Linked DNA regions of Homo sapiens. The protein of the gene in region 4 interacts with the protein of the main gene of each other region in a pairwise test. Each region holds a gene or a part of one and is shown on either strand. Other genes may lie near its edges. The genes, in order: NEMP1, GJA8, KRTAP5-7 and SCARF1.

Region 1 (7,046 bases), on a different chromosome or scaffold from region 4:
GAGTTTGAGACCAGCCTGGCCAACATGGCGAAATCCCACTCTACTAAAAATACAAAAAAATTACCCGGGCATGGTGGCACACACCTGTAATCCCAGCACTTTGGGAGGCTGAGGCGGGCAGATCACTTGAGGTCAGGAGTTTGAGACCAGCCTGGCCAACATGGCGAAATCCCACTCTACTAAAAATACAAAAAAATTACCCGGGCATGGTGGCACACACCTGTAATCCCAGCTACTCGGGAGGGTGAGGTAGGAGAATCGCTTGAACCTAGGTGGCCGAGATGGCACCACTGCACTCCAGCCTGGGCAACAGAGCAAGACTCCATCTCAAAAAAATAAATAAATAAATAAATAAAAATGTATACACAAAGATGTTCACAAACTTACAACAATGAAAAACTAGAAATACCACAAATATCCAACCAACAGTACAAACCACCAATATCCAACCAAATGTTTAATCCACAACATTAATAATGATTTTTACCAGGCAGATGGCACGTGCCTGTAGTCCCAGCTACTTGGGGAGACCGAGGTGGGAAGTTACAGTGAGCTATGATTGTGCACTGCACTCTAGCCTGGGTGTCACAGCAAAACCACGTCACTAAAAAATAATAAATGAAGGCCAGGCATGGTGGCTCACGCCTGTAATCCCAGTACTTTGGTAGGCTGAGGCGGGCGGAACACCTGAGGTCAGGAGTTCGAGACCAACCTAGCCAACATGGTGAAACCCCATCTCTACTAAAAATACAAAATTAGCTGAGTGTGGCTGGGCGTGGTGGCTCACGCCTGTAATCCCAGCACTTTGGGAGGCTGAGGTGGGCAGATCACGAGGTCAGGAGTTTGAGACCAGCCTGGCCAGCCTGGTGAAACCCCGTCTGTACAAAAAATACAAAAAGTTAGCCAGGCATGGTGGCATGCGCCTATAATCCCAGCTACTCGGGAGGCAGAGGGAGAAGTGCTTGAACTCTGGAGGCTGAGGTTGCAGTGAGCCTAGATAGTGCCATTGCACTCCAGCCTAGGCAACGAGGGCGAAACTCTGTCTCAAAAAAAAAAAAATTAGCCGAGTGTGGTGGCACATGCCTGTAGTCCCAGCTACTTGGGAGGCTGAGATGGGAGAATGGCTTGAAACAGGAACCGAGATTGCACCACTGCACTCCAGCCTGGGCCAGACAGCAAGACTACATTCTGCGGGGCGGGGCGGGCGGGGGGTGGAGAAAAAAAATTAAATGAACATCTGCACATACATTGGAATGTAATACAAGTAAGACAACATTTACAAAGAATTTTAAGGCCGGGTGTGGAGGCTCATGCCTGTAATCCCAGCACTTTGGGAGGCCGAGGCGGGCGGATCACGAGGTCAGGAGATCAAGACCATCCTGGCTAACACGGTGAAACCCCCTCTCTACTAAAAATACAAAAAATTAGCCGGGCGTGGTGGTGGGCGCCTGTAGTCCCAGCTACTCGGGAGGCTGAGGCAGGAGAATGGCGTGAACCTGGGAGGCGGAGCTTGCAGTGAGCCGAGATCTGGCCACTGCACTCCAGCCTGCGCGAAAGAGGGAGACTCTGTTTAAAAAAAAAAAAAAAAAATTAGCCGGGCGTGGTGGCGGGCAAGTGTAATCCCAGCTACTCAGGAGGCTGAGGCAGGAGAATCATTTAAACCCAGGAGGCGGAGGTTGCAGTGAGCTGAGATTGCACCACTGCACTCCAGCCTGGGCAACAAGAGCAAAACTCCATCTCAAACAAACAAACAAACAAAAAAACAAAAAAAGAATTTTAAATTACTTGGGAAAATTATTGTACTACAAAATCAAACGAGAAAACTATCTCTGGTAACGACTGGCAGCCTCCAGGGAAGAGAACTAGAGTACTAACTGGATACAAATTATCAATTCATAAAAAATTAAAAATATGTGGAAAAAGATCAGAAGAAAGTGTGCTAAAATAGATTGCTTCTGAATGGATTAACAGTGTGGTTTCTGCCTGCTTCTTTATACTTAATTGTACCTTGCCAAATCATCTAAAATAAACATGCATTATTTGGCCGGTCACGGTGGCTCACACCTGTAATCCCAGCACTTTGGGAGGGCCAAGGCGGATGGATCACGAGGTCAGGAGTTCGAGACCACCCTGGCCAACATAGTGAAACCCCATTTCTACTAAAAATACAAAAATTAGCCGGGCGCGGTGGCGGGTGCCTGTAATCCCAGCTACTCCGGAGGCTGAAGCAGGAGAATTGCTTGAACCCAGGAGGCGGAGGTTGCAGTGAGCGAGATCGCACCACTGCACTCCAGCCTGAGTGACAGAGCTAGACTCCATCTCGCGGGCCGGGGGCGGTAAGGAATCAAGGTTTTACAAGAGCAGAAGATAGTAGAGATCACTGCATTTCTGTCAACTACATCCGTTCTGCCACCCGTGCCCTGCGTCCTGACAGAGCATACGCTCAGATGGTGTTTGCTGATTTGCCGAATGAATGAGATGGTCCCTTTCCCGCGGCTGCTCTGCCTGCCCAGAATGGTCCCCAGGTTTTCTCGCTTTTAACCAAGAAACTCAAGGCTTCTGCAACGAGACACAGCCCCCAGGACTGCTTCTCAACCAGTCTAGGCCTCCCTTCCTGTCTCCGCCAAAAGGCTTCAGGCTCCTCCCCACTCTGGAAGCTGCCCCAGCCCGCTTCAGGGCCCAGACCCTCAGTCCCGACGCCCACTAGCCTGCCAAGTTTCTTCCACCACACTACGCCGGCGGCCCTCGGTAGAGCCACCGCCCTTCTGCAGAGTAACGGCCCGCGCCCTCGGGACAATCCCTTTTCCAAAAATAACCCCCTCGGCACCTGCCCCCTTGGCAGCTGCTGCCCGGGCGGTACCTGTGCCGTAGACCAAGCAGCCGGAGAGGATCAAGAGTAGCCGCACTGTCCCACCGCCCCCGACTCCCGAGCCCCAGGGCCCGGGACCAACTGCCGGCGAGACCGCCACTTTCATTCCTCCCGCCATGGTTGCCTCAAGCCACCTCCTCCTCACGTGCCTTACCCCAGCAACTAACTCCGAACGGGCAACGACAGCAGCCTATCCTCTACGAAACCCGCCCCTATCAACCAATGGGATGGGCAGGGCTTCGAGCACCCAGCCCTCCAAGGGCCCTATGAGTCCCGCCCCTTAGCAACTGAAGAGAGAGGGCGGGAAAAGCAGCTTTCAGCCTATTGGAAAATGGGTTCTCACCCTAGCAGTGGCGACAGGAAGATCCCACCCCGCTAACAACATGCTTCCGTCTTCAGTTTATTTACAACTGGTGTGATTGATGGTAAGTTTAACCAATAGAAAATCGGAATGGGAGAGGCCTCCTTGACCAAACTCGGTATTTCCATAGAAGCTGTCTGAAGTTCCTTCCGTTTTCTTTCGGTTACTTTTTATCACGACCTTTCTGTTATGAGACGCCTACAATTGAGATCGCTTTATGAGTAGGACCCTGATAGGACGATTTTTAAAGTCGACTGACAAAAGTGTGGTTCTCCAAAGTCCTAAAGGATTTAAAATAGAAGTCACAAAAAAGTGTGTGTCAATATTTTATAAGCATAAACATTAGCTTTTAAAAATGTATTCATAGGATTTTTATTTTTGGAAGTAAAATTAATGTTAGGATTAAGAAAGATTCATTTATTCCTCTTATCATCTTGTGAGACAAATATAATTCTCTCCATTTAAGAAGCCAAAGCCAAGACAGCCACAGGAACCTGCCCAAGATTTCATAGTTCATCTGGTCTGTGATCCCAACCTAAATCCTACTGACTCCAAAGCCGGAGTTATTTATATGGATTAGCTGCTTCCCATTCAATGATTTAACACAGGGCCCAGCAGAGATCCAGGTGTTCAGAAACTGTTAGTAGAAATTGAAACTTTTTTTTTAAGAGGATCTGATGGTGATGGGTAGGAAAACTACAGATGATAGAGCCAAATGAATTGAGGAATTCAAGGAAGGGGGCATCTCCTGGGGAAGGTTCAAGCTTTCAAAACAAGAATTTTTTTTTTTAATGTTTTTAGAGACAGGGTCATTCTCTGACACCCAAGCTGGAGTGCAACAGCACCATCACAGCTCAGTGTAACCTTGAATTCCTGGACTTAAACCATCTTCCCACCTCAGCTTCCTAGATAGGTTGGGCTACAGGGATGCACCACCATGCCCAGCTATTTGTTTGTTTCATTGTTGTTGTTGTTGTTGTTGTTGTTATTGAGACAAGGTCTCCTTCTGTAACCCTTCTGGAATGCAGTGGTGTAACCACAGCTCACTGCAGCCTCGAACTCCCAGGATCAAATGATCCTCCCACTTCAATCTCCCAAGTAGCTGGGACTACAGGCATGAGCCACTATGTCTGGCTTAATTTTTTTTAATTACTTTTTGTAGAGACAATATCTTGCTATGTTGCCCAGGCTGACCTCAAACTCCTGGCCTCAAGTGATTATCCCACCTTGGCCTCCCAAATTACTGAAATTACAGGAGTAAGCTACTGCACCTGGTCTAAAACAAGGACCTTTTTAAAAGTCAAAATGGGCCGGGCATGGTGGCTCAGGTCTGTAATCCTAACACTTTGGGAGTCCGAGGCGGGTGGATCAACTGAGGTCAGGAGTTCGAGACCAGCCTGGCCAACATGGCAAAACCCCGTCTCTACTAAAAATACAAAAATTAGCCAGGCATGGTGGTAGGTGGCTGTAAGCCCAGCTACTCAGGAGGCTGAGGCAGGAGAATCCCTTGAACCCAGGAGGCGGAGGCTGCAGTGAGCCAAGATCGCCCCATTGCACTCCAGACTGGGTGACAGAGCAAGACTCTGTCTCAAAAGAGAAAAAAAAAAAAAGTCAAAATGGGCTGGGCATGGTGGCTCATGCCTGTAATCCCAGCACTTTTGGGAGGTTGAGGTGGGAGGATCACTTGAGGCCAGAAGTTCGAGACCAGCCTGGCCAACACAGCAAAACCCTATCTCTAATAAAAATACAAAAATTAGCCCAGCATGGTGGCAGGTTCCTGTAATCCCAGCTACTTAGGAGTCTGAGACAGAAGAATTGCTTGAGCCCAGGAGGCAGAGGTTGCAGTGAGCCGAGATCATGCCACTTCACTCCAGCCTGGGTGACAGAGCGAGCCTCTCTTGTCTCAAAAAAAAAAAAAAAAAGTCAAAATGGGGCTGAGCTATGGGCAAGAGAAGAGATTTCATTCTCAGAAGGAAAAGTCTAGGCCAACAGTGCTGATATGGTCATCCTGTATTTCACACACACACTCCCTCAGCTGACCTAGGGAAGTCAGCATCAATCATGTTGATACTATGTACCCTTGATAACATGAGATGAAAATGGCATTTTAACTCTGTGGTTTTCCTTCCCAAAACCCATAACACCACTCTAATCTTGAGAAAAACATTAGACAAATTCCAATAGAGGCATCCTACAAAATACCTGACCAGTACTCCTCAAAGCTGTCAAAGTCATCCAAACATCATTATGGGCTTTTTTGTTTTTGTTTTTTGAGACAGAGTTTCACTCTTGTTGAGCAGGCTGGAGTGCAATGGCACAAACTTGGCTCACCGCAACCTCCCCCTCCCAGGTTCAAGCGATTCTCCTGCCTCAGCCTCCCAAGTAGCTGGGATTACAGGTGTGTGCCACCCCGCCCAGCTAATTTCATATTTTTAGTAGAGATGGGGTTTCTCCATGTTGGTCAAGCTGGTCTTGAACTCCCGACCTCAGGTGATTTGCCCGCCTCGGCCTCCCGAAGTGCTGGGATTACAGGCATGAGCCACCATGCCCAGCCCATTATGTTTTTGAGAACTAAACATAATGTGGTGGTCTAGATGGGATCCTGGAACAGAAAAACACATTAGTTTAAAAAAACGAGGCTGGGCACGGTGGCTCATGCCTGTAATCCCAGCACTTTGGGAGGCTGAGGCGGGCGGATCATGAGGTCAGGAGATGGAGACCATCCTGGCTAACATGGTGAAACCCCGTCTCTACTAAAAATAAAAAAAATTAGTCGGGCGTGGTGGCAGGTACCTGTAGTCCCAGCTACTCAGGAGGCTGAGGCAGGAGAGTGGTGTGAACCTGGGAGGCGGAACTTGCAGTGAGCTGAGATCGCTCCACTGCACTCCAGCCTGGGCGACAGAGCAAGACTCCGTCTCAAAAAATAAGAAAACAAAAAAAAACACGGAGGCTGAGCATGGTGGCTCACGCCTGTAATCCCAGCACTTTGGGAGGCCAAGGCGGGCGAATCACGAGATCAGGAGTTCAAGACCAGCCTGGCCACCATAGTGAAACCCCGTCTCTACTAAAAATACAAAAATTAGCTGGGCGTATGGCGGGCACCTGTAAACCCAGCTACTCAGGAGGCTGAGGCAGGAGAATCACTTGAACCTGGGAGGCGGAGGTTGCAGCAGTGAGCCAAGATCAGTGCCACTGCACTCCAGCCCGGTGACAGAGTAAGACTCAGTCTAAACAACAACAACAACAACAAAAACTCAAAGGAAATCTGAATAAACTGTAGACTTTAGTTAATAATAATGTTTCAATACTGTTTCATTAATGGTGCTAAATGTACCATACTAATGTCAGATAATAATTGAGGAAATTGAATGTAGGGTATATAGGAATTCACCATATTATCTTTTCAATTTTTCTGTACATGTAATGTTTCTAAAAATAAAGTTGGCTAGCCTCAGTGGTTCACACCTGTGATCCCAGCACTTTAGGAGACCGGGTCTGAGGATGGCTTGAGCCCAGGAATTCAAGACCAGCCTGGGCAACATAGTAGGACTCTGTCTTTACAAAAATACAAAAATTAGCCAAGTGTGTTGGCACGTGCCTGTAGTCCCAGCTGCTCAGGAGGCTGAGATGGGACGATCACTTGAGTCTGGGAGGTTGAGCCTGCAGTGAGCCATGATCATGCCTCTGCACTCCACCCTGGGTGACAGAGTAAGACCTTGTTGCTAAAAAAATGAATAAATTGGGCAGGTGCAGTGGCTCATGCCTGTAATCCCAATGTCTTGGGAGGCCGAGGCAGGTGGATCACTTGAGCCTAGG
Region 2 (4,011 bases), on a different chromosome or scaffold from region 4:
TGAGCAGCAGCTGCCCCTGCTTTCCAACTTTCACAGCCCCATTCTCTCCCTTGCATTAGAACAGGCCTGTCTTGCAACTTATGTCACCTGTCTGTATTCTGTAGGCTTTTGAGTCTGGATCCCTGAAATATGGTCACATGGTATCTGCTTCAGAAATGCTGGGATGATAGATTCTGGCTTAGTGAGCTTGAGACAAGATGGGTAAAAGGCTATGAGGCAACCCCAATTCCGATTTAAGGGTTTCTATGGAGAAATGGGGATGAAAGAAGAGTCACCCATAGCTGCTGGGGTTGGAGGAGCGGGGTAGTCCTATGAGACTGGGGAACTTTAGTGGGTCGATGGGTTTATCTTGGTAGCCCTTATGCTGGATGTGGGAAAGACTGTTTCCTAGAGTTGCCTGGAGTGCACTGCCCTGCTGCAGTGCCTGTCCAACCAGAGGCTGGTGGGAGGACAGGAGACAGAAGATTCAGATCATGTTGGCACCTGTTCCTTTCATCTTGCCCTACGTAAGCTTGGGCGTTTTTTTTTTTTTCTTTGGCGTCACTTCATACGGTTAGATCGTCTGACCTGGCTCGGCTGCTGGCTTTGCTTAGCCTGCTCAGGGGTCTGGCATCATCTGTTGTCAGCTCTGGACAGAGTGAAGGTGTCTTCTCAGCTGGCAGCCCTTGCTTTGACACCTTCTCCGACTGCGGCTCTTCTTTTTCACCCTCCTTATCCACTCCGGGGGTCTCTACTTTCTCCCCCTCTGGCACGGCCACCTTCTCCTGCTCCTCCGTGGTCAGCCTCTCTGCTTCCTCCTTCTTCTCTCCCACCTCGGGTTCGGCTCCCTCCTCTGCAGGCGGCCCCTCGCCCTCCACTTCTTGTGCCCCCACCTGAGCGTAGGAAGGCAGTGTCTCTTGGTAGCCCCGGGACAAGTCCCCCAGGGGTCCTGTGCTGATCTTCTCCTCGAACTGATTGAAAGGCTTGGCAGGCAGTGGGCTGGTCTCCACCATCCCAACCTCGGTCAAGGGGAAATAGTGGGAAACGATTTTCTCTTCTTCTAGGAGCTGATAGCCCTTGGCTTTCTGGATGGAGGAGACAGCAATGGAGTGGAGGGATTTCTCAGGAATCTCCCCCAGGGGCTGCTCTACAGGCCTCTTCAAGGCAGACCGGATCCCCTTCAGGCCCAGGTGGCCCAACTCCATCACGTTGAGGAATAGGGACACAGAGGCCACAGACAACATGAACAGGATGAAGATGGTTTTCTCCGTGGGCCGGGACACGAAGCAGTCCACCACATTGGGGCAGGGCCACCGGCTGCAGCGGTACAGAGGCAGGATCCGGAACCCGTACAGGAAGTAGTGGCCCACGATGAAGCCCACTTCAAAGAGGGTCTTGAAGATGATGTGGCAGATGTAGGTCCTCAGCAGGGTCCCCTCCAGCCGGAACTTCTTAGTGCCTTTGCTGCCGCTGCTCTTCTTGACGCTGCCCTGGTCCGGGCCGCCGTTAGTCCCCGCCTGCTGGCCCAGCTCCTCCGCCTCGCGGCTTTTGCGCTTCTCCTCCATGCGGACGTAGTGCACCGCGTGCCCCACGTACATCAGGGACGGGGTGGAGACGAAGATGATCTGCAGCACCCAGAGGCGAATGTGGGAGATGGGAAAGGCCTCGTCGTAGCAGACGTTCTCGCAGCCAGGCTGCTGGGTGTTGCACACGAAGTCGGATTGCTCATCCCCCCACACGAACTCTGCGGCCGTGCCAAGGATGAGGATCCGGAAGATGAAAAGCACGGTGAGCCAGACTCTGCCGATGACGGTGGAGTGCTCATTCACCTCCTCCAAGATGTTCCCCAGGAAACTCCAGTCGCCCATTTCTCACCCACCTGAAGAAATGAGGGAGAAGGCAAGAGCTGAGCGGCCGCAATGCAACCCTGAGTCAATATCTGTTTTTGCTAACGCGGGGTACCTCTCCTTTCCAAGTTGCCAGAACGGTCAATGTGCACACAGCGTCTATCCAGTGCTTCCTTTGTGCAGACTAGGACTAGAGAACAAAGAAGGCCCCGAAGAATGTGCTTCCATCCGCTTCCTCATCTGTAAAATGGGTTTAATAATAATAATACCTATTCTCATTCACTTCACAAATGGTCTGAAAGCATCAATGAGGCAATATTTGTATAATTCCTTAAAGTCCACCAAAAATAAGGATTCATTGTTGACCATAAATAGAAACCCTTGGTTACATGGATTTAAATCAAGACCACACACTGATCTAAGTTTCGTGAGACATAATGCTGAAGAGTTCCCTTATACTATGGGTGTCTGGGCTCCCAACACAATTCTTGTATGTATGAAATTGTCTGTGGCCATCTTATGTTTGAGTGTCAGAATATATAATGATCGTATATTTGAAGGGAAGTGGAAGGGGATTAGCATTTATTGAATACCAACTTTGTGAAAGAACTTTGACATTATATTATTTCATTTAACTTGATCCTGCTAGACTGTAATTTCCATGACGGTAGGAGCCATGCCTGTCTTATTTACAGCTATATACTCAATGCCTGACATACAGCCCAGCACACAGTGAGAACTTGATAAGTATTTGTTAACTAAGTTGATTCCAACAAATAAGAAAACTGAAGGCCAGGCACAGTGGCTCATGCCTGTAATCCTAGAACTTTGGGAGGCCAGGGCAAGAGAATCACTTGAGCCCAGGAGATAGAGACTAGCCTGGGCAACACAGTGAGACCCCATCTCTACAAAAAACTTTAAAAACTAGCTGGGCTCGGTGGTGCATGCCTGTGTTCCCAGCTACTTGGGAGGCTGAGCCAGGAAGATTGCTTGAGCCTGGGAGGTCGAGGTTGCAGTGAACCCTGATATGTGCCACTATACTCCATCCTGGGCAACAGAGAAAGACCCTGTCTCAAAGGAAAAAGAAAAAAAAGAAAAAAGAAATCTGAGGCTCAGAGAGGCTAAATATATTGTCCAAGATTAGACAGCTAAATAGCAGCAGTTCTGTTTGCTTGATCACAAAGGCTGGGTTCTTCCCACTACACCATTGAGATAAACTGCCTGCAATCAAAGCTACACAATTCTTTGACTTCTGTGCTCTTAATTTATGTTTCCTCTTCTCTAGGTTGAAATCTGGAAACCCTTATTAATAGCTTTACACATTGAGGGCCGTATATTTTTATTATTACTCTTTTAAATCCAAAGAACAGAGAGAATGCTTTGGGAAGGAATCATGTCACAGGATGAGGAAGGTCTTCTAGGACACTTTTAGTGTCCTATGGAATGAAAATGTTTCAGGGTCTGTAACATATGGCTGTTTTAATAGAGTCAAAAATTTGGTCTATAGAAAAAATATCGTTAAACATGATAGTATATAATGCCTGTAGCACAGCAATGGCTAATGGAAATGGCATTGAGCTGACAAGGGGCTGGCTGCAACTGGGTCATTCATCCAGTGCAAACCTGTAACCTATAAAGAATGATGAGCAAAACTTCCACCTCAATGGAGAACAGTTGTTCCTGCAGCTTGAACATCTCTAGAGTTATAAGTTTACTCATCACTGCCCTCAGACCAGGGCAAGAGCCCATGTTAGAGGATCTTGCTCTGGGCTTCTTCTAGCCATGCCCCATGCTATAGGCCTAGGAACCTATGGGGCTAAAGGGATATGCCTATTGTTTTTTAATCACAGTGATATTTGTTAAACACAAAAGCCTATTTCCAACCTGTGATTTGGAGTCTGGCCAGACAGAACCTGGTGGCAGGATACTAATTGCAGGCATCTGCAATGTCCAGCCTGTGCTGTCAGGGCAGGCACAATAGCTGTTCGCTTCTTGTGGGAGAGCAGAGAGTGCTCCTCCTCTTGAGGCCTCATAAGCTCCCAATCAGGCAGGGCATCCTGCAGCAGCTTCTCTTCTCCTGAAAAAGTGACAGCAGCTGTGGCATCCCCAGTCATGGGTCTGGCATTGGGAAGAGTTCCTTGGAGAAATGGGTAATGGAGAGGGGGAAGGACCCAGCAGCTCGGAA
Region 3 (6,199 bases), on a different chromosome or scaffold from region 4:
TTGCTGTATTCTTGGGTGAGAATGCTGAGGACATGCTGCTGTATTCTTGGGCGAGTACATTGGTGACATGCTGCTGTGTTCTTAGGTGAGTACACTGGTGAAACAATGCCCAATCGCACGGCCAAGAGATTTGAGGAGCAGGGACATCTGGTAAGCAGACTTCAGTTTCTTTTCAGTAATGTGCCCCTCTTATGCTCTCCTCAGGGTTTAGCATGCATCCCTTAAACAAAGAAAGTAGCCTCATATAAGCAATGGTTTTGTGACTAGAGTGCCTCAGTCCATTATTGCTGCTATAAGATAATAATTGACCTGGGTAATTGATAAAGAACAGAAATGTACTTTCTCAGAGTCCTGAAGGCTGGGAAGTCCAAGATCAAGGTGCTGATATCTGGTGTGGGCCTTCTTACTGTGTCTTCACATATTGGAAGGCAGAAGGGCAAGAGAGCATGAATATGTTGTCCTCACATGGCAGAAGAACAGAAAGGGGTGAATGCCCTCTCTCAAGTCCTTCTTGGAGCAGCACTAATTCATTCCAAGTACCTTTTGTTAGGCCCCACCTCCCAACACTCTTGCATTGGGGATGAAGTTTCTAATACATGAATTTTGGGGGACACATGCAGACCATGGCATAAAGGAACCTCTCTCCCCACATGGAGTACAACTGAGCAGGGAACCCAGCTGAGCAGCTGAAGTAAGCAGCCTAAGAGGAGTGAACACTCTGCCTGGGGAAGAGAGAAAACAACAGCAGAGAGACTTGTGAGATTTTCAGAAATAATTGAGTAGGGGAAAAGATTCCCCACAAACAACAAGATGAGGATAGATTATTCTTATTTGGATAGGAAAGGAAAGGATATTGTCTGGGTGCAGTGGCTCACACCTGCAATCCCAGCACTTTGGGAGGCCAAGGTAGGAGGATCACTGGAGGCCAGGAGTTTGAGACCAGCCAGAGCAACATGGCAAGGCCCCATCTCTACAAAAAGTTTAAAAGTTAGCTGGGTATGGTGATACATGCCTATATTCCCAGCTACCTAGGAGGCCAAGGCGGGAAGATTCCTTAAGCCCAGAAGTTTGAAGGTGCAGTAAGCTGTGGTCACGTCACTGCAATCCAGCCCAGGTGACAGAGGAAGACTTCATCTAAAAAAAAAAAAGTGATCCCCAGTAATATAGTTTGCATGCTTCCTCCAAATCTTATGTTGGTGGGGCCTGCTGGGAGGTGTTTGGATCATGGGTGTAGATTTTTCATGAATGGTTTAGCACCATCTCCTTGGTGATGAATAAGTTCGAGCAAGATCTGGTTGTTTAAAAATATGTGGCACTGACCAGGCATGGTGGCTCATGCATGTCATCTCAACACTTTGGGAGGCTGAGGTGGGCAGATCACCTGAGGTCAGGAGTTCGAGACCAGCCTGACCAACAGGGAGAAACCCTGTCTCTACTAAAAATACAAAATTAGCCAGGTGTGGTGGTGCATGCCTGTACTCCCAGCTATTCGGGAGGCTGAGGCAGGAGAATCACTTGAACCTGGGAAGCGGAGGTTGCGGTGAGCCGAGATCATGCCATTGTACTCCAGCCTGAGTAACAAGAGCAAAACTCCATCTCAAAAAAAAAATGTGTGGCCTCTGTCCCTCCACCAGCTCTCTCTTTCTCAGCTGTCACCATGTGGCATGCCTGCTCCTGCTTTGCCTTCTACCATGAATAAAAGCTCCCTGAGGGCCTCACCAGAAGCTGAGCAGATGTCGGTGCCATGCTTGTACAACTAGCAGAACCAGGAGCCAATTAAACCTTTTTTATTTATAAATTACCCAGCCTCAGATATTTCTTTATGGCAACACAAAAAATACAGAAAACTGTACCAGGAATGGTATGTTGCTATAAAGTCACCTGAAAATGTGGAGGTGACTTTGGAACTGGGTAATGGCCAGAGATTGGAAGATTTTTGGAGGGCTCAGAAGAAGACAGAAAGATGAGGAAAAGGTGGGAACTCCTTTGAGACTGGTTAAATGGTTGTGTCCAAAATAATTAAAGTGATAAGAACAATGAAGTCCAGCCTGATGAGGTCTCAGATGGAAATGAGGAACTTACTGAAAACTAAAACAAAGATCACTTGTGTTACACCTTGGCAGAGAGCTTGACCATATTGTGCTTCATGCCCTAGGGGGCTCTGAAAATTTCTACTTAGGAGTGATGACTTAGGATATCTAGTGGAAGAAATTTCTAAGCAGCAAACATTCAAGCTGTGGCCTGACTGAATCTAACATCGTATTCTCACATGCAAGAGCACATAAATGAATTAAAGTTGGAATTTATATTTAAAAGGGAATCAAAGTGTAAAAGTTTGGAAACTTTGCAGCATGGCCATGTGGCAGAGAATGAAAAAGCATTATCAGGAGAGGAATCCAAGCAGGCTATAGAGCAACCACCTGCTAGAGATATTAGCATGACTCAAAAAACAAACAAAAAAACCCAAGTGCTAATAGCCAACACAATTGGAAAAGACTTCAAATGCATTTCAAAAGTGTTTGAGACAGCCCCTCTCATCACTGACCTAGAGGTCTAGGAGGACACCATGGTTTCAGGGGCTCACCCCAGGCCCTCACTGCCCTGCATAGCCTTGGAGCACTGCTCCCCACACATAGGCTACTCCAGCTCCAGCCTCAGCTCAAAAGACCCCAAATGTAACTCTGGCTTCAGAGGGTGCAAGCCATAAGCCTTGGTAGCTCCCATGTGGTGTTAAGCCTGTAGGTGCGTAGAATACAAGAGTGAAGGAGGCTTGGGATCCTCTACCTAGATTGCAGAGGATTTATGAGAAAGCCTGGGCACTCAGGCAGAAGCCTGCTGCAGGGGCAGAGCCCGCACAGAGGATATATACTAGGGCAGTGTAGAGGGGAAATGTGGAGTAGGAGGCCCACACAGAGTCCCCACTGGGGCATTGCTTAATTGAGCTGTGGGGAGGAGGACACCATCCTCCAGGCCCCAGAATGGTAGAGCCACTGGCAGCTTACATCTTGAGCATGGAGAAGCTGCAGGCACACAACTCCAACCCATGAGAGCAGCTGCAGGGTGCGAACCTTGCAAAGCCACAAGGGTGGAGTTCCCCAAGGCCTTAGGAGCCCACCCCTCACTCCAGTGTACCCTGGATGTGGGACTGGGAGTCCAAGGACATTATTTTGGAGCTTTAAGATTTAATGGCTGCCCTGCTGGATTTCAGACATGCATGGGGTCTGTAGCCCCTTCCTTTGGGCTGATTTCTCCCTTTTGGAATGGGAATGTTTACCCAATGCCTCCACCCTCATGTATCTTCAAAGTAAATAATGTGTTTTGATTTTCACAAGTTCATTGGTGGAAGGGACTTGGACTTGGGACTTTGGACTTGATGTTGGAATGAGTCAAGACATTGAGAGGACTGTTGGGAAGAGATGATTCTATTCTGCAATGTAAGGACATGAGATTTGAGGGGTCAAGGGGATAATGATACAGTTGGGATGTCCCCTCCAAATCTCTTGTCGAAATGTAATCCCCAGTGTTGAAGGAGGGGCCTGCAAGGAGGTGTTTAGGTCATGGGGGCGGATCCCTCATGACTGGCTTAGCGCCATCTCCTTGGTGATGAGTGTGTTCACTCAGATCTGGTTGTTCGCAAGTGTGTGGCCCCTCCTCACCCCTTGCTCCCACTCTCACGATGTGGTGAGCCTGCTCCTGCTTCACCTTCCACCATGAGGAAAAGCTCCCTGAGGGCCTGCCCAGAAGCTGAGCAGAGGTGGGTGCCATGCTTGTGCAGCCTGCAGAACCATGAGCCATTCTAACCTTTCCTTTATAAATTACCCAGCTTCAAGTATTTCTTTAGAGCAATGCAAAACTGAGAATGGCATGAGTAAAATATAAAGACCATGGATAATTTTGAAATCTAAAAATGTGAAATTAATATTCCTGGGGGAGTCAACACAGGAAAGATGAGAGCACGTGGGCAAAGGCTGTTGCCCATTGGTCACATGTGGTCAGCAGAGAGCAGGTGACCAGCACCCTGGAGCTTTGCGGGAAGCACCAGACAGCCTGGAGCTGAGGTTTCAATTGTAGGGGCCAAAACAAATAGGGAAAAAGACAAATTTAGTAAACAAAGAAAGTAGATGCTCAACTGAGCCAGGAGGAAGTCACTAGCAAAGAGGAAAAAAAATAGAGCTCTGGAAAAATAGCGTAAACAGTCACAAGGAAGCGACCCTGTATTGTGCCTGACCTCTGGACAGGTATATAAAGAGCCCGGGCTCAGGGGGCTCCACACCTGCACCTCCCTCTCACCTGCTCCTCTACCTGCTCCACCCTCAATCCACCAGAACCATGGGCTGCTGTGGCTGTTCCGAAGGCTGTGGCTCCGGCTGTGGGGGCTGTGGCTCCGGCTGTGGGGGCTGTGGCTCTGGCTGTGGGGGATGTGGCTCCAGCTGCTGTGTGCCCGTCTGCTGCTGCAAGCCCGTGTGCTGCTGTGTGCCAGCCTGTTCCTGCTCCAGCTGTGGCTCCTGTGGGGGCTCCAAGGGAGGCTGTGGCTCCTGTGGGGGCTCCAAGGGGGGCTGTGGCTCTTGTGGGGGTTCTAAGGGGGGCTGTGGTTCTTGTGGCTGCTCCCAGTGCAGCTGCTATAAGCCCTGCTGCTGCTCCTCAGGCTGTGGGTCATCCTGCTGCCAGTCCAGCTGCTGTAAGCCCTGCTGCTGCCAGTCCAGCTGCTGTAAGCCCTGCTGCTGTTCCTCAGGCTGTGGGTCATCCTGCTGCCAGTCCAGTTGCTGCAATCCCTGCTGCTCCCAGTCTAGCTGCTGTGTCCCCGTGTGCTGCCAGTGTAAGATCTGAGGCTCTGGACTCAGGTCTCATGTGAGTCCTGCTAACCCCATTTTCCGAAGCTGTGACCTGTCCTTCATCGTTGAGCCCCAAACCACTGCTCAGGGTCCATTCCTCACTATAAGATGAAGCCATATCTGCCTGCCTTTTCCTAAGGAGAGTCCACCCTAATTAATGTCCATTCCCTCCTAACAAATTCTCTTCCCAAGTCAACTGCAACTGCGGCTGAATCACCCCTCACCCGCTAGCCTTGCCTTTGCTTGTGTATTCAGAGGCCTGAGCTCCTGAACCCACTTGAAGTCCTGTCTTTTCCAGCTGGAGCAGCTGGGCATGAGTGTCCCACCTGCAACAAGGTGGGCGTTTAAGAGGCTTCCTTGGAGTGGCTTTGCCTGTCCAACACTCTGCTTTATCTTAAATGAAAAGTTGCAAACTAATAAAAATACCATGCCGACAAACTGAAACACATATCTTGCTGATTTCTCTGTTGTTCGGGGTCATTACTATGGCTATGGCTATTGTTTTCTTGTTCTTGTTGTGTTTCGGACTGCGTGGGTCTGATGCTGATGTTGCTGGAAGGTGCTAGGATGGGGCTGGCTGTCTCCTCTGCCTCTCATCTCCTTCCTGGCTGACCCCTCTTTTCTCAGAACCCCTCTCTTCCTAGGTCTTTCCAGCTATTGATCTGATGGAGACAGGACTGTTCCTCAGGCCAGGGCCACAGAAGCAGAAGAGGCTGCTGAAAACTCTGGGGAGTTCAGACTTGCCTCCTTTCCCTGGTCCAGGCCTCTGCCATCTTCCTTTGGGAAGTTTTTGTAACCAACTTACTCTGATTGTCTTTGTTGTTACACAGCCTGTTGCCTCTGTAAATAAACACTCCTAGCACCAAGCCAATATTGCTTTTTAAGAATTTTGAAAGGGCCGGGCGTAGTGGCTCACGCCTATAATCCCAGCACTTTGGGAGGCCGAGGCAGGCGGATCACTTGAGGTTAGGAGTTTGCGACCTGACTGGCCAACATGGTGAAACCCTGTCTCTACTAAAAATATAAAAATTAGCTGAGTGTGGTGGCACGTGTCTGTAATCCTGGCTACTTCGGAGGCTGAGGGAGGAGAATGGCTTCAACCTGGGAGGGGGAGGTTGTGATGAGTCGAGGTCGCGCCACTGCACTCCATTCTGGGCGACAGAGCAAGACTCCGTCAAAAAAAAAAAAAGGCAATATTAATAGAGTTGAATTATTTCAAGTTATTTGGAAACACAGCAATTTATTGGTGGGATATGTCCTAAGCATAGAAAGAACACAAAAATAAAATTCCTAAGCTATTTTTAGTAGTCATGGTGGCAGCAGTGGTGTCGTTATTCTGCTGTGAATGCTGTATGGAAAAAGCAAAT
Region 4 (7,036 bases):
GCAAGGATGAGGAGAGTGGCAGAAGGACCAATTCAGGTAGACACTGTTACTTCTACACTTTTTTTTTTTTTAATTGTAGAGATGGGGTCTCACTATGTTGGCCAGGCTGGTATCAAACCCCTGGCCTCAAGCAGTCCTCCCGCCTCAGCCTCCCAAAGTGCTGGGATCACAGGTGTGAGTCACCACACCTGGTCTCTATACTCTTTTCTCACCACCTCTCCCTACTTTGAAATACTGTCACACTCTTACCAAGCTAAAACTCTTTCGATGGCACACAGCCACATCCCTCTCACCTCTGGGCCTTTGTGTATGCTGTTCCATCTTCCTGAAACACCATTCCCTCCTCTCCCTGACTTTCACTTGGCCAACTCCTACTGATTCTGCTAGACTCGACTGGGATGCCACACACATCGTCCCTGACCCCAGTCACCCCAACATGGCTAGCAAATGAGTCCCTACTTGTATGTCCCCCATGGAAACACATATCACTGTGTCCTGTCATTGTCTGATGACTGCCCATCTGACTCTAAGCCTGGTGAGGATAGGAATCTGTCTTGTTATCTCTTGCATGCCCGGAGCCAAGAACAGTGACTAACACAAAATGGGCCCTTAATAACTGTTTGCTGGCCAGGCGCAGTGGCTCATGCCTGTAATCCCAGCACTCTGGGAGGCTGAGGCGGGTGGATCACGATCCTGGCTAACACGGTGAAACCCGGTCTCTACTAAAATATAAAAATTAGCCGTGTGTGGTGGTGCACGCCTGTAATCCCAGCTATTTGGGAGGCTGAGGCAGGGGAATCACTTGAACCCGGGAGGCAGAGGTTGCAGTGAGCTGAGATCGCACCACTGCACTCCAGCCTGGCGACAGAGCAAGACCCAGTCTCAAAAAAAAATAAAAATAAATAACTTTGCTGGAGGACTAAAGAGGGGGTCGTGGTGGGCAGGGCTGCTCAGGGGCTATGTGGGCTGTTGGGGGGCTACCTTCTTGGGGTGGCACACAGTAGGCAGGAACCTCATCTGCCTCTCCAGACTCAGGATCGGATGAGAAGGAGTCATCAGTGGCCCAGCCGGCAGAGGGCGGCTCGATGAAGCTGTGGTTGAAGGGGACCTCCGGGTCGTGATGTGAGACTGTAGAGACTCCAGATCAGGCGCCTGCAGGACCTGATGCAAAGCCCTGTCCAATCCCAGACCCCGGCCCCCAGCGCCCACTGACCTGTCACCCAGGGTAGCTTGTGGGAGCTGAGGGAACGGCAGGGCAGCGTGGAGCCCAAGCTGGTCAGTGTCCCCCAGACCTGCAGCTTCATCCTGGACACGGTAGCTCCATCTCTCGCTGGCCTGAGGGAGGAGGGTAGGGACACTGGTCAGTACATGAGACCCACGGTGACCTGGGTCACCTTGGCAGGGTGTGACAGGGTGACTGCCTCTACTTCAGTGGCTTCAGTGGCTCTCTATTGACTACAGAATAAAATCCAAATGATTGAGCCCACAATTCAGGCCTGCCACAGAACAAAGAGTGGCTCTAGAGTCAGACAGCCGAGTAACAACTCTGGTTCACACTTCACCTCCCTAGGCCTCAGTTTCCGCATCTGTAAAACAGATCCTATCTATCTATCTATCTATCTATCTATCTATCTATCTATCTATATCTATCCATCTATCTATCATCTATCTGAGCTTTTTGCAGGACCTGGCAGGTCTTTGTTATTATCATCCTAGCTGAGCCTCAGCTCACGTTTCTCTCTCTCTCTCTCTCTCTATTTTTGGGACAGAGTCTCGCTTTTGTTGCCCAGGCTGGAGTGCAGTGGTACGATCTTGGCTCACCGCAACCTTCGCCTCCTGGATTCAAGTGATTCTCCTGCCTCAGCCTCCTGAGTAGCTGGGATTACAGGCGTGCACCACCACACCCGGCTAATTTTGTATTTTTAGTAGAGACGGGGTTTCACCATGTTGGCCAGGCTGGTCTTGAACTCCTGACCTCAGGTGATCCACTCACCTTGGCCTCCCAAAGTGCTGGGATTACAGGCGTGAGTCACTGCGCCCGGCGCACCTGTCTCAAATGACACCCCCTCCAGGAAGCCTTCCCTTGTTCCCACTCTGCTCTACCCCCACATGTGGAGGAGACTGCTCTGCTCTTCACTGTTCCTCCAACAGCCTTTGCACCTGTCCTCGTGTCCCTGCGAGGGGCTTCTTCCCACCCTGGGCTCTATGCCCTGGGCCAGGGGCAACTGTATCTGCTCCTCTGTGAATGCCGCACAAGCACAGAGGAGGATGTGCTATTGGACTAGGGCAGGAACTAGTAAGAGAGCACCAGACAAAGAGTCCAAAAAGGTGGAGAGGGGCTTCCTGTGTGCCAGTACCAACTAGATCACCTTGGGCCTCAATGTCCTCTGGGAATTGAGGACATTTATCCTCCCGGCCCCACACTCCCTGTTCCAAACCTCCACGCTGCTGTGAGTCTCAAAGGAGCCTGGAATGTGACGAGGTTTCATAAAGGAACAAAGCTCTGCGTAAGCCCCCTGCGCGGGCCCCACCAGCCCAACCCTTCCTCCCCTCTCCGTCTCTCAGGCAGCTACACTCTCTGCTAAACCACTGCACAGACATTGATGTCTCTTTCCTTCGTGGGCCATCTGAGGCCTGGTCTCTTTCCCTCCTGGCCCAGAGCCGGGCTGCTCCTTCCGTGGTCCCAGCCCTCCTCCTCTGGTCCCCGCCGGTGTCAGCTTTCTGCCTCCCGCTGCAGGCTCCGGTTCGCCAGCCTGGTGCCCATGCAACTCAGAAACTTCCTCATTGAAGGCTTCCGAGGAGGGCAGGCAGCTGACCCGGTGTCTCCAGTGTCTCCAGGCCACGGGCACTGCCAACTACCTCCATCACCTCTGACCTACGTGGGCGACAAGGCCAGCCCTCCCCACCCCCATCACCTCTGACCCACGGGGGCGACAAGGCCAGCCCTCCCCACCCCCATCACCTCTGACCCACGTGGGCAACAAGGCCAGCCCTCCCCACCCCACAAGGAAACCAGATGCCCCCCTGCTCCCACCCTGTGGCCTGAGCTGTGTGGGGAAGGGACGGGCTGGCGTTCACCTGTCCTTGAGGTCTGATCGGGGGGCCCAGCAGCAGCAGGCACAGCAGGCAAGGCCCAGGAAGAGCAGCAGCAGAGGCACAAGGCTGCCCGCGATGAGGGCAGTGTCCCGACTGCCAGAGCCTGGGGGAGCCAGAAACGGGGGATATTCAGGCCTTCCTGTCTCCTACACATCCTGTCTTTGCTCTGAGTTGCCTGCTACCCAGAAGCTTCTTCCTGGGGGTCACTCCCTGCCTCCGGGCAGCCCCTCTGCTGGCGTGTCCCCTCCACAGGTTCTTGCCCCTGAGGCCATGTCAGTGTCCAGCCACCCCGCTGCCCATTTCACGGCTCTAGCCTGGTTTCGCAGGGGCGGGGGCTCTGTCACATCTTCAGGGGGCCCCAGAGCATCCACACAGAGCTCAGGTATAAAGAATGTCTCTGGGCCGGGCACAGTGGCTCACGTCTGTAATCCCAGCACTTTGGGAGGCCGAGGTGGGCAGATCACCTGAGGTCAGGAGCTTGAGACCAGCCTGGCCAACATGGTGAAACCCTGTCTCTACTAAAATATAAAAATTAGCCAGGCATGGAGGCGTGCGCCTGTAATCCCAGCTACTCGAGAGGCTGAGATGGGAGAATGGCTTGAACCTGGGAGGTGGAGGTTGCAGTGAGCTGACATCACACCACTGCACTCTGGCCTGGGTGACAGAGCAAGACCTCGTCTTAAGGGAAAAAAAAAAAAAAAAAAGAATATCTCTGAAGTGGGCCCAGACTCCCTGGTGAGGAACTTGCCCTGGAGCCCATGTGAAGGGCCCGCCTTTCCCTGGCTACTGCACCCCGCAGCCTTCTTCCACCTTACCTGGCTGGCAGGACCCAGAGACAGGGTGGCAGAGTCCCTCTGGGCATTCACAAGGAACTGAGCAGTTGTTTCCATGGAAACCGGCTGGGCAGGAGGCGTTGCAGCTATGGAGTGACATGGAGAGGCAGGCTGAGGGCTGGGTGAAGTGGGGGAGGCAGGCAGGAGACGGGCAGGGAGATTTCTGGGCACTGTCCAGGGAAGTTCAGGAAATGCTGCACAGAGCCCTGACCTAGGCCCCTGGCACTCTCCCGCCCCCGGGATCCCCATCCTTACCTGGGCCCCCAGTAGCCGGCACTGCAGACACAGTCCCCTGTCACAGTATCACAGGACCCCTGAACACAGGTGGGGCAGGTAGAGCCACAGTCTTCCCCAAAGGTACCAGTGGGGCAGGGGTCTTCACACCTGGGGTGAGGCAAGACTCGGGGAAGGGGAGACCAAGGCAGGCCTGGCCCCCACTGTGGGGCCCCACCCCTCCGCCCCACGCTCCTGGACTCAAGGACCCAACTGGCCACTCCTCAGCAGTGAAGCTCAGGTGCAAATAGGGCCTTGAACTTGGGGCCAAATCCAGCAGGTGACAGACTACAAGTCCCCAGAGGGCGAGGAGGGCAGGAAGCCTCAGAGGGGAGGGAGCTGGGATCCTGCCCAGGCCCCCCCAGAACCCACTGCTCTCCCCCAGTCTTCAACAGGAGGGAGGCCCCTGGGGCCGCATGAACCTGTGTGTCGGGGAGGGTGGTGCTCTCGGAGAGAGCCGCTGAGCTGAGGGTCCTGGGGGAAGGTGTACCCCACCCTGAACAGAATGGTGCCCTCACCTGGGCCCCAGCCAGCCAGGGTCACAGCGCTGACAGTGGCCAGTATCTGGCTCACAGGCCTCCCCATGTCGGCAGTGAGGGCACTGCTGTTCGCAGCTCTCGCCAAAGGTGCCAGGCAGGCAGGGCTGCTGGCACTGGGTCCCGTTCCAGCCCGGCTCGCAGGACTCACAGCTGCCTGTGTCTGGAGAGCACGGCTCATTGTGTTTGCAGCGGCCACAGCTGGGAAGAGAAGGGCTTCGTGGGAACAGTGGGGGTGGATGGATGGAGCGCCCACCCCCTCCTACCCCTGTACTCCACGCAGGCCTTCGGGGGCCCTGGAGAGTGTTCGGGTCCCACCTGGGTCAGGCAGGTTTGAGCCTCAGTTTCCCCACGTTGTACAATGAGGACAAATGAGGGCTCTTACAGGATCCCATCCCTTTCCTTCCAGGCATCTGCTCTGTGACCGTCTTTCCCTGGGTCCCAGGACCATCAGGAGCCAGCAGCCCAGCCAGGGCAGGCGAGTCACCACCAAGCTCTGAGTCCCATTTGCGAGGTCTGCCAGGCCTTCCCTCCTGCTCTTTTCACTTTTCCTTTTTCCACACTGAGCCGTCCCCAGGTCTGGCATGAATGGGACTCAGTAGTGTCTTCTACCCCATCACACGAAATGCAAAAAATGTAAAGTGTTTTCACCCAGGGGTCCTCAAACCCTGGGCCATGGACTGGTACTAGTCCGTGGCATGTTAGGAACTGGGCGACAGCGTAGAGATGACCAGCAGGGGAGCCTGACCGCCTGAGCTCCGCTGCCAGCCAGATCAGTGGTGGCCTCAGATTCTCATAGGAGCGCCAGTCCTATTGTGAACTGCGCACGGGAGGGTCCAGGTTCCATGCTCTTTACGAGGATCTAATGCCTGATGATCTGTCACTGTCTCCCATCACCCCCAGATGGGACCCTCGAGCTGCGGGAAAGCAAGCTCAGGGCTCCCACTGATTCTATATTATGGTGAGTCATATTATTATTTCATTATAGATTACAGTGTAATAATAGAAAAATTGTCTGCCATGAAACCAGTCCCTGGTGCCAAAAGGTTGGAGACCACTGTTGTCACCAATATAATTTCACATTTGCCATATCTTAATTTCCCATTGATGCCTAATAGTTACCTGAAGTTTCTCCCTCAGATGCTTAACTAGCTGGGATCATATACTTGGGTCAGACCCATTAGTAGGGGAGAAGAAGGGCAGTTTATAAAAGCCATTTAGCTGATCCTGACCAGCATTTTTATTTCTTATTTTATTTTATTATTATTTTCTTCAAGACTGAGTCTCACTCTGTCGCCCAGGCTGGCGTGCAGTGGCGCGATCTTGGCTCACTGCAACCTCCGCCTCCCGGGTTCAAGTGATTCTCCTGCCTCAGCCTCCCAAGTAGCTGGGATTACAGGCGCCCAACACCATGCCCGGCTAATTTTTGTATTTTTAGTAGAGACGAGGTTTCACCATGTTAGCCAGGCTGGTCTCGAACTCCTGACCTCAGGTGATCCGCCCGCCTCGGCCTCTCAAAGTGCTGGGATTACAGGCGTGAGCCACCGCGCCCAGCCAGGGATGAAATTTCTTACTGTGAGTGCAGCCAGTCAAAGTTTGAAAGCCACTGAGCCCTAAAGGGACCTTGCTCAGGACCCTTGGTCACTCGATCCACTTATTTATTATTTTTTTTGTAAGAAACCATTTTTTTAATTTTCTTTTTTTAAATATATTTATATATATTTTTTTATTATTATACTTTAAGTTTTAGGGTACATGTGCACATTGTGCAGGTTAGTTACATACGTATACATGTGCCATGTTGGTGTGCTGCACCCACTAGCTCGTCATCTAGCATTAAGTATATCTGCCAATGCTATCCCTCCCCCCTCCCCCCACCCCACAACAGTCCCCAGAGTGTGATATTCCCCTTCCTGTGTCCATGTGATTCCATTGTTCAACTCCCACCTATGAGTGAGAATATGCGGTGTTTGGTTTTTTGTTCTCGCGATAGTTTACTGAGAATGATGATTTCCAATTTCTTCCATGTCCCTACAAAGGACATGAACTCATCATTTTTTATGGCTGCATAGTATTCCATGGTGTATATGTGCCACATTTTCTTAACCCAGTCTATCATTGTTGGACTCGATCCACTTATTACCTACATATGGCTTGCTAGCAGTGCTAGTATATTTTGCACAGCAGTAATCAATGAAATGAGCAGGTGAGGCTGGACCTGGGGCAACAAAGCGTTTTTAAAAGTTTTTGTTTTGTTTTGTTTGAGACGGAGTCTTGCTCTCTGGCCCAGGCTGGAGT

The links.
Region 1: the proteins of SCARF1 (region 4) and NEMP1 interact in binary tests that used the Homo sapiens proteins (3 or more experiments, as listed by UniProt).
Region 2: the proteins of SCARF1 (region 4) and GJA8 interact in binary tests that used the Homo sapiens proteins (3 or more experiments, as listed by UniProt).
Region 3: the proteins of SCARF1 (region 4) and KRTAP5-7 interact in binary tests that used the Homo sapiens proteins (3 or more experiments, as listed by UniProt).

What each region holds. Positions count from the first base shown.
Region 1 is NC_000012.12:57,075,759-57,082,804, forward strand, and holds the start of NEMP1 (nuclear envelope integral membrane protein 1 isoform a precursor), read right to left. Parts: upstream 3,034-7,046; 5' UTR 2,988-3,033; coding exon 2,861-2,987; intron 1-2,860. UniProt on the Homo sapiens protein: Together with EMD, contributes to nuclear envelope stiffness in germ cells. Required for female fertility. Essential for normal erythropoiesis. Required for efficient nuclear envelope opening and enucleation during the late stages of erythroblast maturation.
Region 2 is NC_000001.11:147,905,792-147,909,802, reverse strand, and holds the end of GJA8 (gap junction alpha-8 protein), read right to left. Parts: intron 2,648-4,011; exon of another isoform or gene 1,859-2,647; 5' UTR 1,848-1,858; coding exon 546-1,847; 3' UTR 534-545; downstream 1-533.
Region 3 is NC_000011.10:71,522,972-71,529,170, forward strand, and holds KRTAP5-7 (keratin-associated protein 5-7), read left to right. Parts: upstream 1-4,295; 5' UTR 4,296-4,329; coding exon 4,330-4,827; 3' UTR 4,828-5,698; downstream 5,699-6,199. UniProt on the Homo sapiens protein: In the hair cortex, hair keratin intermediate filaments are embedded in an interfilamentous matrix, consisting of hair keratin-associated protein (KRTAP), which are essential for the formation of a rigid and resistant hair shaft through their extensive disulfide bond cross-linking with abundant cysteine residues of hair keratins.
Region 4 is NC_000017.11:1,635,728-1,642,763, forward strand, and holds part of SCARF1 (scavenger receptor class F member 1 isoform 1 precursor), read right to left. Parts: intron 4,940-7,036; coding exon 4,721-4,939; intron 4,314-4,720; coding exon 4,185-4,313; intron 4,016-4,184; coding exon 3,912-4,015; intron 3,200-3,911; coding exon 3,079-3,199; intron 1,336-3,078; coding exon 1,214-1,335; intron 1,129-1,213; coding exon 982-1,128; intron 1-981. UniProt on the Homo sapiens protein: Mediates the binding and degradation of acetylated low density lipoprotein (Ac-LDL). Mediates heterophilic interactions, suggesting a function as adhesion protein. Plays a role in the regulation of neurite-like outgrowth.